Homo sapiens: one gene and its partners. The protein of the gene in region 3 interacts with the protein of the main gene of each other region in a biochemical or structural test. Each region holds a gene or a part of one and is shown on either strand. Other genes may lie near its edges.

The links.
Region 1: of the proteins of CASP6 (region 3) and PARP10, one has a biochemical effect on the other in vitro, tested with the Homo sapiens proteins (one study listed by IntAct).
Region 2: of the proteins of CASP6 (region 3) and MAPT, one has a biochemical effect on the other in vitro, tested with the Homo sapiens proteins (2 studies listed by BioGRID).
Region 4: of the proteins of CASP6 (region 3) and NUCB1, one has a biochemical effect on the other in vitro, tested with the Homo sapiens proteins (one study listed by IntAct).

The regions. Positions count from the first base shown.
Region 1 is NC_000008.11:143,979,841-143,983,784, forward strand, and holds part of PARP10 (protein mono-ADP-ribosyltransferase PARP10), read right to left. Parts: coding exon 3,327-3,944; intron 3,226-3,326; coding exon 3,092-3,225; intron 1-3,091. UniProt on the Homo sapiens protein: ADP-ribosyltransferase that mediates mono-ADP-ribosylation of glutamate and aspartate residues on target proteins. In contrast to PARP1 and PARP2, it is not able to mediate poly-ADP-ribosylation.
Region 2 is NC_000017.11:45,991,730-45,995,772, reverse strand, and holds part of MAPT (microtubule-associated protein tau), read right to left. Parts: intron 1,850-4,043; coding exon of another isoform or gene 1,796-1,849; intron 1-1,795. UniProt on the Homo sapiens protein: Promotes microtubule assembly and stability, and might be involved in the establishment and maintenance of neuronal polarity.
Region 3 is NC_000004.12:109,690,383-109,693,584, forward strand, and holds part of CASP6 (caspase-6 isoform alpha precursor), read right to left. Parts: intron 628-3,202; coding exon 468-627; intron 1-467.
Region 4 is NC_000019.10:48,913,488-48,917,530, reverse strand, and holds part of NUCB1 (nucleobindin-1 precursor), read right to left. Parts: coding exon 3,967-4,043; intron 1-3,966. UniProt on the Homo sapiens protein: Major calcium-binding protein of the Golgi which may have a role in calcium homeostasis. Acts as a non-receptor guanine nucleotide exchange factor which binds to and activates alpha subunits of guanine nucleotide-binding proteins (G proteins).

The DNA.
Region 1 (3,944 bases), on a different chromosome or scaffold from region 3:
GTCTCTATTAAAAATACAAAATTTAGCCGGGCGCGGTGGCGGGCGCCTGTAGTCACAGCTACTCAGGAGGCTGAGGCAGGAGAATGGCGTGAACGCAGGAGGCGGAGCTTGCAGTGAGCCGACATCGTGCCACTGCACTCCAGCCTGAGTGACAGAGCGAGACTCCGTCTCAAAAAAAAAAAAAAAAAAAACCCGTCTCAGCCGGGCGCGGTGGCTCACGCCTGTAATCCCAGCACTTTGGGAGGCCGAGGTGGGCAGATCATGAGGTCAGGAGATTGAGACCATCCTGGCTAACATGGTGAAACCCCGTCTCTAATAAAAATACAAAAATAAGCTGGGCGTGGTGGCAGGCGCCTGTAGTCCCAGCTACTCAGGAGGCTGAGGCAGGAGAATGGCGTGAACCCGGGAGGCAGAGCTTGCAGTGAGCTGAGATTGCACCACTGCACTCCAGCCTGGGCTACTGAGTGAGATTCCGTCTCAAAAAAAAAAAAAAAAAAAAAAAAAAAAAAAACCATCTCTACTAAAAATACAAAAAGTAGCTGGGTGTGGTGGTGTGTGCCTGTAATCCCAGCTACTTGGGAGGCTGAGGCAGAATCACTTGAACCCAAGAGGTGGAGGTTGCAGTGAGCCGAGATCATGCCACTGCACTCTAGCCTGGGCAACAGAGAGAGACACTGTCTCAAAAAAATTATATATATAAATGTATATATTAATATATAAATGTATATGTTTAAACATATATGTTCACATATACGTAAATTTAAAAGTCAAATATGTTTAGCACCCACTCAAGGAGATACTCCCACTAAACAAAAGAGTCTGTGCCAAAAGGTGACAAGCGGGGTACTGAGTAACCCGGTGGTCAAGAATGGCCTGGAAAAAATGAAGAAAGTCAAAAAAAGAAAAGCCATTAGCCTTGAATCCTAGAACATCTTTTTTACAGAACAGAATTTTAATAACTAGGATTTCACTTCTCTTTCTATGGCTCAGTGGTAAATGTTTTTTCATTATTATAGTATGTCTACCAACCTATGGCCCACGCATGGAGGCTTTGTGATAGTTACAGAAACCTTTACGACATAATAAAAATAATGTAACTGACCAAATTGAGATGGAAGATGAGGGAGGAGGCAAAAGAGAGAGAAGCGAGGCCCATTCTCCTCATCTTCCATGCGGGAAGGCAAGAAACAATCTCTAAAGCTGTCAAGTGAAAAAAAAAAATTCAAGCATACCATTTAAAGTCATCAAGGTGCTCACTAAATTCAAGCATACCATTTAAAGTCATCAAGGTGCTCACCGGAAGAACCAAGTACGTATAATTAACAAAACCACCAGGATATGAGGTCAGTGCGTCTGGGTGGTGGTGATCCTGGTGGCGGTGAGCGGTGACGGTGTGTTGGTGAAGCTGACGGTGACAGTGGTGATGCTAATGGTGGTGATGATGGTGGCCACGGTGGTGGTGGTAGTGGTGGTGGTGATGGTGGTGACGACAGTGAGTGGTGAAGGTGATGGTGATGATGGTGGTGACGACAGTGAGTGGTGAAGGTGATGGTGATGATGGTGGTGACGACAGTGAGTGGTGAAGGTGGTGGTGATGATGGTGGTGACGACAGTGAGTGGTGAAGGTGGTGGTGATGATGGTGGTGACGACAGTGAGTGGTGAAGGTGGTGGTGATGGTGGTGACGACAGTGAGTGGTGAAGGTGATGGTGATGATGGTGGTGACGACAGTGAGTGGTGAAGGTGGTGGTGATGATGGTGGTGACGACAGTGAGTGGTGAAGGTGATGGTGATGATGGTGGTGACGACAGTGAGTGGTGAAGGTGGTGGTGATGATGGTGGTGACGACAGTGAGTGGTGAAGGTGGTGGTGATGATGGTGGTGACGACAGTGAGTGGTGAAGGTGATGGTGATGATGGTGGTGACGACAGTGAGTGGTGAAGGTGGTGGTGATGATGGTGGTGACGACAGTGAGTGGTGAAGGTGGTGGTGATGATGGTGGTGACGACAGTGAGTGGTGAAGGTGGTGGTGATGATGGTGGTGACGACAGTGAGTGGTGAAGGTGGTGGTGATGATGGTGATGGTGATGGTGGTGGTGATGACAGTGAGTGGTGAGGGTCATGGTGATGGTGTGATGGTGGTGGTGATGGTGATGGGGTGATGGTGATGATGGTGGTGATGATGGTGGTGAGGGTCATGGTGATGGTGTGATGGTGGTGATGATGGTGGTGAGGTCTGGGGACAGCCAGAGGTTCTTTTTGCATTTCTGACCAGCTCCTGGTGGAGGGTGATGCTGCTGGCCCCACGCACAACTTTGGGCATCAAGAGTTGAGAGTGCCCCGTGCAAGGCCGGGCGCGGTGGCTCACGCCTGTAATCCCAGCACTTTGGGAGGCCGAGGCGGGCGGATCACGAGGTCAGTAGATCGAGACCATCCTGGCTAACATGGTGAAACCCCGTCTCCACTAAAAATATTTTTTAAAAAATTAGCCGGGCGTGGTGGCAGGCGCCTGTAGTCCCAGCTACTTGGGAGGCTGAGGCAGGAGAATGGCGTGAACCCGGGAGGCGGAGCTTGCCGTGAGCCGAGATCGTGCCACTGCACTCCAGCCCAGGAGACACAGCGAGATGCCGTCTCAAAAAAGAGAGTGCCCCGCGCAGTGTCATCAGCACAGTGACCGCAGCGAGCCCGGGCCTTTCTGTGGAGGCAGAAGAGCGCCCAGAACAGCACAAGGGACGCATCTGTGGAGCGAGTAATCCTCAAAATGACCACAAGATGGCATCACCGCCCCATGCTCCAAATAAGGAAACTGAGGCCTGGAGCTGGTCCCATAGTCCCTGCTGACCCAGCCACGAGTGGCAGAGTGGGGACCCTCACTCAGGCCTATCAGATCCCAAGGCCCCCACTCTGTTCCCTCCTGTTTCCCTACCCACTTTGGGAACGCCCTCTGGGCAGAGAACAGGGCTGGGAGCCTGTCAGCTCCTGGTCAGCTGACCTTGATGTAGGCGAGAGGGACAGGCCACAGACTTGGCAAGGCGCTAATGGTGCAAGAGCCCAGGACGCCATGAGGCCAGAGAGACAGGGCATGGACTCACACGAACGACGCGGATGCTGCTGCGGGCAGCGTCCAGGGTGTCGTAGAAGGCCCGCACCACCTCCTGGAACTCCCCGGTGTTCTCTGCCAGACGCTCCAGGTTGTTCCAGGGCCCCTTCAGCGTCTGCCCCGCCACTGATGCATGGGGAAAAGCGGGGGGTCAGAGCCATGCCTGGGGCACTAGCCCCTGCTAACCAGCCCACCCCACCGTCCCTCAGTCCAGGAGGTAGACTCACAGGTAGGGCCTGAAGCTGCCAAGGGAAAGGCCAAACTCTGATCCCAGGGGCCAGCCAGAAGTGCCACCAAGTGGCGGGCAGCACGGGCAGGGTGGGCCCCGAAGCCACGGAGGATGGTGCAGTCACCACGCAGGGCAACACTCACACCATGGCACCGCTCCAGGCGAGCACGCAGCTCTGCAGGCAGTGTGCGGCGCCAGGGCCCCACCGTCTCCTCCTGGACGTGGACCTCCAAGGCAGCCCTGAGCGCCCGGTCCAGCTCCTCCACATCCTGCTCAAAGGCCGAGTGCACCACCAGCTGGGCCTTGCCATCAGTCCCCCCATCTGGGGGCTCTTCTGCCTCCAACGGGGGCTGCTCCAGCAGGGAGAGGGTTAGGGCTTGCCGCAGGGCAGCAGCCTCCTCCTGCTCAGCCACCTGACCTTGAGGCTCCAGTGACCGGTGGAGGGCCAGCTGCAGAGCGGCCTCCTCCTCCAGCCACCTGGGTGCCACAGTGCTGGGGGCCACAGGCTCCTCCTCCTCATGCCCTGGGGTCACCTCCTCCTCTGGCTGCTCCTGAGGCCCTTCCTCCTCCAGCTCCCGAGGCAGCCAGTCCTCCCCGTCTAGGTCTAGGCCCTCCA
Region 2 (4,043 bases), on a different chromosome or scaffold from region 3:
AACAGGATGCCTGCTCCACGCCTGCCTGTCCCTAGCTGTCCACACGAGCCATACCGCTTCATGCTGCTGTGCCCTGACGTACAGTTCCCCACCTGCCATGCATAGCAGTTACTAGCGCACCCTTCCAACACCCTGGAAGCTGCTGGGGGGTCTCTTCTCCTCTCCATGCAGATGCTGTCCCTCCCTCCTCTGGGTGTCCTTTACCCTCAAACTTGCTTCTGTTACTGCACTTCCCAGGCCCCCGTTACACTTCAACAGTCTGGTATTCTATCTCATGGGTCTGTATTTTCCAAAGTGTGGCCCACGGAACCCTGCGTCAGAATCTCCGGAGCTTTCAAGGAGGAAAGTGGGAGTTGCAAAATGCAAATTTCTCGATCCCCTTCAAGAGTGGATAGAGCAGAATCTCTAGGGGTGGGACCTGCAAAGCCTCATTTTTCTCAAGCTCCACAAAGACTGAAGTCTGAGAACCGCAGGCCTCACCCTGTGCCGAGGTGTGCTTAGCTCCCCTGCAGTCTGAGAACTTAGCTTTCCTGCAAGTCCAGAAGCTTCCCGCAGCAATGCCCCTGCCGCTGCCCCAGGCATTTGCTGTAACACATACCTGCTGGCCAGACCTGGAGAAGGGCAGCTCTTTGAAGCACCCATGTAGCCAATGGGCAGCTTGGCCAGTGACGAATAAGCACTAGTTTTCTTTTGTTGTTGTTTTGTTTTTTTGTGGTTTTTTTTTTGAGACGGAGTCTTATTCTGATGCCCAGGCTGGAGTGCAATGGCGTGATCTCGGCTCACTGCAACCTCCGCTGCATGGGATCAAGCGAGTCTCCTGCCTCAGCCTCCCGAGTAGCTGATATTACAGGTGTGCAGCACCACGCCTGGCTAATTTTTGTATTTTTAGTAGAGACTTATTTTAGTAGAGACTGGATTTTTGTATTTTCAGTAAAGATTTCTTTAGTAGAGGTTTTACCATGTTGGCCAGGCTGGTCTTGAACTCCTGACCTCAGGTGATCCACCCGCCTCGGCCTCCCAAAGTGCTGGGATTATAGGCATGAGCCACCGCACCCAGCCAGCACCAGTTTTTAGAATTTGACTTCCATGTCTTTTTTAAAAATAATGTTTTTTATAGAGACGGGGTCTGACTATGTTGCTCAGGCTGGTCTTGAACTTCTGGCCTCAAGCGATTCTCCCACCTCAACCTCCCAAAGTGCCGGGATTATAGACGTGAGCCACCGTGCCCTGCGGATTTCCATGTCTTGGATGTTCCTGAAGTAGTACGCTCTGTGGCAATAGGACAAACGAAGCCTCTTATTTTCCACATAAGGAAACAACAGATGGGGCCTCGGCCTCCAGGGCCTCCAGGCTCAGCCTCTCTGCCTCCTCAGACCTCCCATCCTCCTGCCTCCCTGACTTCAGAGACCCAGGGTGACCAGTGGGCTTGGTGGTGGTGGCTCCAAATACTTTTCATGCCTCTTATTTACAGAGTGGTCGTGGGCAAGTCACCTGACCTCCTTAAGCCTATGTCTTCATCTGAAACATAGGGAGACAGCCAGGCATGGTGGCTCATGCCTGTAATGCCATTGTCCCTGAAGTCAAGGAGAGCACACAGGATTAGAAAGCCCATCAGACAAACACAGCTGCGCAAACTGCACAGGGAAGAGAATTCGGACTGCTCCATCTTCAGGCTGCGAACCCTGTGTGAACCCTGCATTGCAGAAAAGGGTCCTCCCGGCTCTAGAAACACAAGCCAGTGAATGGCCACACACGCAAAGGGAGGCTGCTCCCAGCGAAGTAGGCTCCCGAGTACCTCTCTCAGATCTGGGCCCTGCAGGGGGTGGTCTTCTCTGGACTTGCTTAGTCGCTTAAAGAGAAAAATCCACGAAAGCCTTATTATCATCAGGCTTAAACAGGGCCTTAATGAGTCCTTCACGTGGCAGGCACCCACAGCTGGCCCAGCAGGGGCCCCATTCTGAAACAAGGTCGAGGGGCCCAAGGGGGAGGGTCTCTCCACCTGCAGGCAGCCACCGAAGAGCAGGTAAGACCCAAAGGGAAATGCATCACGTTGTTTCAGGTTGTTACAAAGTGTGAGTCCCCTGTAATCCCAGCACTTTGGGAGGCCGAGGTGGGCGGATCACTTGAGGTCAGGAGTTCGAGACTAGGCTGGCCAAAATGGTGAAACCCTGTCTTTACTAAAAATACAAAAATTAGCAGGGCGTGGTGGCCTGTGCCTGTAGTCCCAGCTACTCAGGAGGCTGAGGCAGGAAAACTGCTTGAATTTGGGAAGCAGAGGTTGCAGTATGCCAAGATTGTGCCACTGCACTTCAGCCTGGGTGACACAGTGAGACTCCGTCTCAAAAAAACAACAACAAAAAACAGAGTGTGAGTCAACTGGCCCGATGTTAAGTGAAAAAAAAACAGCAGGATCCAAACGCTACTTAAAATCCTGTCAAAATTCTGGGAATTATCCCTGGATCACATGTATATGAGAAAAACACCAGGCCAGAAAACACGAAGCGAAAAGACAAAAACAATGGGCCTTAGTGAATGGCCATCCTTGGGGGTGCCACTGCACGGCATGTGTGCGAGAAATGCCACCGCAAAGACACGCAGCAGGTGGTGGGCAGGCTCTGGGCAGCTCCCTCAGGCCAGGGAGAAGCAGAGTCACCAAGATCCAAGATCCAGGCCAGGCTTTGGTCACAGCCCGCAGCAAGTGCCATAGGCTGCCCGTGCCACCAAGGAGCAAGTGCAGGTCAGACACCCCTACATGGTGCAGAGTCTAAACCCAGGGGCCTGGAATACTTCACTGGGGCAATGGAAGAGAGAAGTGCTCGGGCAGGCAGGCAGGCTGTCCCTAATCCCCAAAGAGGACGACTGTTTTTTTTTTTTTTTTTTTGAGAAGGAATCTCACTTTTGTCATCCAGGCTGGAGTGCAATGGTGCGATCTCAGCTCACTGCAACCTCTGCCTCCTGGGTTCAAGTGATTCTCCTTCCTCACCCTCCTGAGAAGCTGGGATTACAGGCGCCCGCCACCACGCCCAGCTAATTATTTTGTATTTTTATTAGAGACGGGGTTTTGCCATGTTGGCCAAGCTGGTCTCGAACTCCTGACCTCAGGTGATCCGCCCACCTTGGCCTCCCAAAGTGCTGGGATTACAGGCATGAGCCACCACGCCCAGCCGCGACTGTTCTTAATAGCACTCCTGGCTGCAAAATAACTCAATGGATGCCTTACTGGGTACTCAAAATTGACTGGGTTTTACTCACAGGAGCCCAGGGCAACGGGCCCAGCCTGTGACTGCTCAGCTAAGACCCTCAGGTTTTGCAGCAGACTCCTAACGTCCCTAGCAAGTTAAGCTGCCCAGGGGTTGAGCCCTGAGTGACGTCACCCATTGTGACTTATCCAGGCTGCTGCTCTGTCTCCAGAGACATTTGTCTCCAGAGTCTCATTTGGGGACTGAAAACATGCCATGCTGGGGCTGCCTCTATGGAACCCTGGACTTGGGGCCAGAGAGGCTCCGAGAGCTGCCACTTAGTAGTCATGTGACTGCATTTTCCTCGGGTTTAAAATGAGCTGGTTAGACTCAGTCAAGCAAACTCTCAGAGGCTCGATTTCTTTCTTTTTTTTCCTTTTTCTGTATTTTTTTTTATCATGCTGCAGAATCAGCCTCAATTTCTTCATTGATAAAAAGTGAGGATTCAGGCTGGGAGTGGTGGCTCATGCCTGTAATCCCAGCACTTTGGGAGGCCGAGGCAGGTGGATCACCTGAGGTCAGGCGTTCGAGACCAGCCTGGCCAACATGGTGAAACCCTGTCTCTACTAAAAATACAAAAAATTAGCCGGGCATAGTGGCAGGTGCCTGTAATCCCAGCTACTAGGGAGGCTGAGGTAGGAGAATCGCTTGAACCTGGGAGGTGGAGGATGCAGTGAGCTGAGATCACACCACTGCACTCCGGCCTGGATAACAAAAGCGAAACTCTGTCTCAAAAGAAAAAAAAAAAAAAAGGTAGGGATTCAACATTTGCCTCAGAAATCAAAAGGACTGAGAAGGCAATGA
Region 3 (3,202 bases):
CATGGTGGTGCATGCCTATAGTCCCAGCTACAGGGGGGCTGAGGTGGGAGGATTGCTTGAGCCTGAGAAATTGAGGCTGCAGTGAGCCATGATCATGCCATTGCACTTCAGCCTCAGTGACAGAGTTGAGACCTTGTCTCAAAAAAAAAAAAAATTAAAGCTTTCCATGACAATTACCACAATGGCACTACCACCCTCAGTAACTGATGGTAGGCTGCTAATACTAATATAATTAATTAGACTGTTGCTTTACTCAACATAACTCTCAGGAATTATTTTTCTGTAAGGTACTTTACACTTTCATTTATCACTCTGTGCCATGTGGTCAAAGAAATTCTAAGTCTGTGAGCTTCAGGATGGAATCACCATGTCCCAACCGAAAGATCTGACCCAAACCAATCAAAGGTGAAACTTACAGGACCTTAGCCAAGAGAGGCAATTATATGTTTGTTTTAAACACCACACACCTTCTGCAACAGAGTAACACATGAGGAAGTCAGCTCCAGCAGGCAGCGTGTAAACGGAGGCTGCATCCACCTCAGTTATGTTGGTGTCCAACTTCTCTGTCTGATTATCTACTACATCCAAAGGAATGACTGGCACATCGTGCTGGTTTCCCCGACATGCCTACAAGACAAGGAGGAAAAACCCACCTCTTTGCCTACTGTTTCCTTCCCAGTGCTTAATGTGTGCAGTGAATGTGTAAGCCAGTACCCCTTCATTACAACAGAAACCACATTCTGAGCAGTTCAGAAGCAATACATTCAGGTTTGGAGGGCACAAAAGCCAACAAAGTTGTTTCCTTACTTAGGCTTTCTTTTAGTTAATGTTTTAAGAAAAAATTGGCATCCCCAAGTATACATCAAATTATGTTGGTAGAAGGGTATACTGTAGAGGAAAAAGCTTGTGGTTTTAAAATTTCTTACAGATTAACCACACCCAGGGCACACGGTGTTACCTTCCCTTTTGAAAGCTATAGTATTGACCTAAGTGTTTCTGTTTAGGCAGGCAGTGTATTTCCAGATTGACTTTTGCTTGCCTGGCTGCTGCTATAAATTGTTAGGAGTTAAAATGACATCCAGCCTGACCTGAGGAGATACCTACTAATGCACCATCTTCCTTGTGTGCCCATTAAAAAGTGAGGTCTCAAATTTTTACCCACTAATTCTGACTCACTCAGAATTTACATTAAATTTAGACTCATAATTAACATTAAATTCTGACTCACTCAGAGGCTAACATTAAACTCTTCTCATAAGTGACTTTTACAAGCTGAATTGTGTTCCCCAAAAATTCATATGTTGAAGTCCTAGCCCCAATACCTCAACTCTGACTGTATTGGAAGACAGGGCCTTTAGAGGTGATTAAGGAAAATGAGGTCATACGGGTGAAACCAAATCCAACATGACTAGTGTCTTCATAAGAAGAAATTGGGACACAGACATGCACAGAAGAAAGACCATATGAAGGCACAGGGACAAGATGGCCACCTACAAGCCAAAAAGGGAGGCCTCAGAAGAAACCAATCCTCCCCACACGTTCATCTGAGACTTCCAGCTCCAGGACTGTGACGATAAATTCCTGCTGTTTAAACCACACAGTCTGTGGTACTTTGTTATGGTCACCCTATACACGAATACAGCCAGCCAATAAGATTCTGTTGTAGCATTATAAATGCATCAATCAGTTCTGAAATGGTTAAAGAATTATGAGCATCAAAAGAAAGTCCTGAATGATTTCAAATCATAAAATAAATAGAAAATCCCTACTATCCCGTTTTTATAGGCAGATTTTAATCTTCGTATCAGCAGGCTTATTTTCAGGCCTTTTTTCTACTGTCCTTCCTAAATATAACAGAACACCTTTAACCTAATGACATCACCTGCCCAGTCAACTGCAATAAGAGTAAGAGCGAGCCTTTACTGAGGGCGTGCTGTATGCCAGGCACTGTTCTAAGTGGTTTGCATTCATTAAATCAGTCAGGTGATTTTGCCCACACAACCACCCCATGAGGCAGGTGCTCTTTTTACCAAGAATCTAAGGCATAGAGAGAGAAAGTAACTTGGAAAACGATTTCATTTGTGGCTTTCTTCCCACAGTAGCTCATTAGTTATTTCCAATTCTCTTGTGTTTGACAGTGTTGGCCACTCCCCTTTTCACAAAACAATCATGTCATTATTTGTTTCTTGTTTCTCTCCTGGTGTCCATCCTCCTCAGTATCTTCCCTCTTCAGCCCATTCCTCATGGGTGCCCCTCGGTTTTGTTTTATGCTCCTTTTTCAGGCTGTATTCAACACGAGTAAACTCATCTAATCCCATGGCTTCCACGACCACCTCCTGATTTATTTCTCCAGCCGAGGCCACCTGTCTTAGGTTCTACACCTGTATGACCAATTCCATGTCCCACAGACATTCCAATGCAGTTGTCCAAACCAGAAACGAGGCAGTCATTCTTCACTTACAGCCACTTCCTCACCCCAAAACAAGGCTTTATGGTAGGATGCGAAATGCAGTTTCATGTTTGATACGGTTTGAACGTCTGTCCCCTCCAAATCTCATGTTAAAATGTGGTTCCCAGTGTGGGAGGTGAAGCCTGGTGGAAGGTGACTGGATCATCGGGGAGGGTCTCTCATGAATGGTTTAGCATCATCCTCTTGGTGTAAGTGAGCTCCCACTCAGTTCACATGAAATCTGGTTACTTAAGAGAGTCTGGGACCTCTCCCTTGGCACTCTCTTGCTCCCACTCCCAACAAGTCATATGCTGGCTCTCTGTCACCTTCCACCATAATTGTAAGCTTCCTAAGGCCTCACCAGAAGCAGATGCCAGCACCATGCTTCCTGTACAGCCTGCAGAACTGTAGGCCAATCAAATCTCTCTTCCTTATAAATTACCCAGTCTCAGGTCTTTATAGCAATGCAAGAATAGACTAACATAATGTTATTTCATGTCCTCCATGCTATTCATGGAAATACAGAATTGTGACACTGGCATGTCAGGTTTCTCTTTTGTAGTTCAAAATCTTTGGCCGGGCACAGTGGCTCACGCCTGTAATCCCAACACTCTGGGAGGCCAAGGCGGGCAGATCACCTGAGGTCAGGAGTTCAAGACCACACTAGCCAACATGGTGAAACCCCATCTCTATGAAAATACAAAAATTAGCCAGCCATGATGGCAGGTGCCTGTAATCCCAGCTACTCGGGAG
Region 4 (4,043 bases), on a different chromosome or scaffold from region 3:
AGCAAGACTCTGCCTCAAAAAGAAAAAAAAAATTTAAAAATTGGCTGGGCATGGTGGTGTGCACCTATGATCCCAGCTACTCTAAGGGTTGAGGTGGAAGAATCACTTGAGCCCAGGAGGTCTGGGTTGCAGTGAGCCATGATCACGCCACTGCACTCCAGCCTGGGTGACAAAGGGAAGCCCCATCTCTAAAAATAAAAAAAATGAAAAATAAAAAAAGGTATAGGGAGTTGCTCTGAACCTATTCTGGTCTGTAGGGACTGCCTGATTAAAAAGATTAAATAAGGTTTTTATTTTTTTATTTTTTAGAGACAGGGTCTCACTCTGTCACCCAGGCTGGAGTGCAATGGTGTGATCGTAGCTCACTGAAGCCTTGAACTCCTCGGCTCAAGTGATCCTCCCACCTCAGCCTCCCAAGTAGCTGGGACTACAGATGCACGCCACCACACCCAGCTAATTTTTGTATTTGTTTTCATAGAGATGGGGTTTTGCCATGTTGCCCAGGCTGGTCTTGAACTCCTGGTCTCAAGGGATCCAGCCGCCTTGGCTTCGCAAAGTGCTGGGATTATAGGGGTAAGCCACTGCGCCGGGCCTATTTATTTGTTTATTTATTTTTGAGACAGAGTCTCGCTCTGTTGCCAGGCTGGAGTGCAGTGGCATGATCTCAGCTCACTGCAACCTCCACCTCCAGGGTTTAAGTGATTCTCCTGCCTCAGCCTCCTGAGTAGCTGGGACTGCAGGTGCGTGCCACCATGCCCAGATAATTTTTGTATTTTTAGTAGAGACGGGGTTTCACTATGTTGGCCAGGATGGTCTCGATCTCTTGAGCTCCTGATCTGCCTGCCTTGGCCTCCGAAAGTGCTGGGACTACAGGCGTGAGCCACTGAGCCCAGCCTATTTTCTATTTTTTAGAGACAGGGTTTCACTCTGTTGCCCAGGCTGGAGGGCACTGGTATGATCATAGCTCACTGCAGCCTTGAATTCCTGGACTCAAGTGATCCTCCCACCTCTGCCTCCCAAGGAGCTGGGACTACAGATGCACGCCACCACACCCAGCTAATTTTTGTATTTTATTTGTAGAGATGGGTTTGTGCCATGTTGCCCAGGCTGGCCTTGAACTCCTGGACTCAAGGGATCCACCCACCTCGGCCTCCCAAAGTGCTGGGATTACAGGCGTGAGCCACCGCATCCAGCCCAAATGTCCTCTCTAGAGCTGTGCTGGGACTCCAGTACAGCAGCCACTAGCCACATGGGGCAATTGAAATAGAAATTAATATCCAGTAGAATGAAAACTTCAGTTCCTCACCATTATGCTAAGTGAAATAAGCCAAACACACACACACACACACACACACACACGACAAATACCAAAAGATTCTACTTGCATGAAGTACCTAAAATAGTCAAAATCATAGAGACAGAAAATAGAATGGTGGTTGCTAGAGAGCAGGGGAAAGAAGGGGAGGGCGAGTGGTTTAATGGATACGGTTTCGGTTGTGCGAGATGAAGAGCTCTCAGAATTGGTTGCATGACAGTGTAAATATACTTAATACTATTGAACTGTACAATTAAACATCTTTAAAGCTGGGCGCAGTGGCACACACCTGCAGTCTCAGCTACTCAGGTGACTGAGGCAGGAGGATTGTTTGAGGCCTGGAGTTTGACTCCAGCCTGGGCAACATAGCAAGATCCTGTCTCAAAAAAAAAACAAAACAAAACACGGGGGGTGGTGCCCGGTGGGATGGCTCATGCTTGTAACCCCAGCACTTCGGGAGGCCAAGATAGGTGGATCGCTTGAGCAAAGGAGTTTGAGACCAGCCTGGGCAACATGGTAAAACCTTGCCTTTACTAAAAATTAAAAAAATTAGCCAGGCATAGTGGTACGTGCCTGTGGTCCCAGATACTTGGGAGGCTGAGGGGGAGGATCACTTGAACCTGGGTGGTCAAGGCTGCGAGGTAGTACACGTCACTACCTGAGACCCCATTACAGAATCTTCTAATTCTTTTTTACTTTCTATTGCTTTTTGAGACAGAGTCTCACTCTGTTGCCCAGGCTGGAGTGCAGTGGTGTGATCTCAGCTCATTGCAACCCCCGCCTTCCGCCTCCCGGGTTCAAGCGATTCTCCTACCTCAGCCTCCTGAGTAGCTGGGACTATAGGTGAGCACTACCATGCCTGGCTAATTTTTGTTTTGTTTTTTAATTTTTGTATTTTTAGTAGAGACTGGGTTTTGCCATGTTGGCCAGGCTGGTCTCCAACTCCTGGCCTCAAGGGACCCACCCGCCTAGGCCTCCCAAAGTGTTGGGATTACAGGCGTGAGCCACCACACCCGGCCTAGAACCTTCGTTGATTCTGAGATGCACTTTTGTGTTCTTCTATTTTATCACCCCTGAAATAGGGATGTATCTTTATTTATTTAACTTTTAATTTTTATTTTTTTCTTTGTTTTTTTGAGATGGAGTGTTGCTCTGTCACCCAGGCTGCAGTGCAATGGCACGATCTTGGCTCACTGCAAACTCTGCCTCCCGGGTTCAAGTGATTCTCCCACCTCAGCCTCCTGAGTAGCTGGGATTACAGGCACTCACGATCATGCCCAGCTAATTTTGGTATTTTTGTGGAGATGGGGTTTCACCATGTTGGCCAGGCTGGTCTTGAACTCCTGACCTCAGGTGATCCTCCCACCTCAACCTCCCAAAATGCTGGGATTATAGGCGTGAGCCACCACGCCTGGTCTATTTTTTTTTTTTAAATAGAGACAGGGTCTCACTTTGTTGTCCAGGCTGGTCTTAAATTCCTGGGCTCAAGCCATCTTCCACCTTGGCCTACCAAAGTGCTGGGATTACAGACATGAGCCACTACACCCAGCCCAGGACGCATCTTGTTTTCAATGGTACGTTAATTTAATTGGCAGCTTACGTAAAATGCTAGCACCTCTCATACTGTACAGTCTCGTGGAGTTACTAAAGTATGGTATGATCTGTGTGCCTGATCACTGGCTCTGAGGGGGAGGTACTTTGTTTTGTTTACAGTTGTATCCACGGGGTCTTGACAAAGCTTGGTCCTTAGAGGGAACTTAGGAAAGGTTTGCTGAATGAATGAGTCAGGCCTTGCTAAGCTTATCTGACCGGCTACAGATTCTGGGACAGGGTGCTTGGCATACCTGAGGGGGCTTGGCAACCCCAGGCCACATTTCCAGACAGGAAGAGACAGACTGAGGGGAGTGTGCCTTTGATCCACCATAGAGAAAGGGCTTTCGAGGCCGGGCGCAGTGACTCACGCCTGTAATCCTAGCACTTTGGGATGCTGAGGGGGCAGATCACACGAGGTTGGGAGTTCGAGACCAGCCTGGCCAACATGGTGAAACCCCATCTCTACTAAAAATACAAAAGTTAGCCGGGCATGGTGGTGCATGCCTGTAATCCCAGCTACTCGGGAGGCTGAGGCAGGAGAATCACTTGAACCCGGGAGGCGGAGGGCAGGGGGTTGCAGTGAGCCGAGGTCATGCCACTGCACTCCAGCCTGGGCAACAGAGCAAGACTCCATCTCAAAAAAAAAAAAAAAAAGGAAAAAGAAAAAGAGAAAGGGTTTTCCAGGCTTCTGGAGGCCTGGTTCTTAGGGAACAACCCACTCCTAGCGACAGGGTTCCCAGAGTGGACCAGGGCTTCTCCTGGGCTGCTGTGGGCAGAGGGCCCAGGCCTAGCCAAGCCTGGTTTGCTTACAGAGGACACCAGCTGTCCTTAGAACCCCGAGGTCTGGTGTTTGCTAGAAAAGAGGCCCAACCCTTCCATGCAGATCCTAGCCTTGTAGTCGGGAGAGGCAGGGCTGTCTGGTCAACCAGGGGACATAGGCTTGGCTCTTGGGCCTGACTAAGCCCTCCTGGGACAGACACACCCCTCTTAGCATTCAGGTCCTAGAAGGGTCAGAATCTAGGGTTCATCCTGGCTCTGGAACTCCCTCCCCACCTTACCATGCAGTATGAAGAAGGTCTTGGGGTTAAACCTGTTGGGGTCCAGTCCATCCAGCTCCTCCCACACCTCCTTCAAC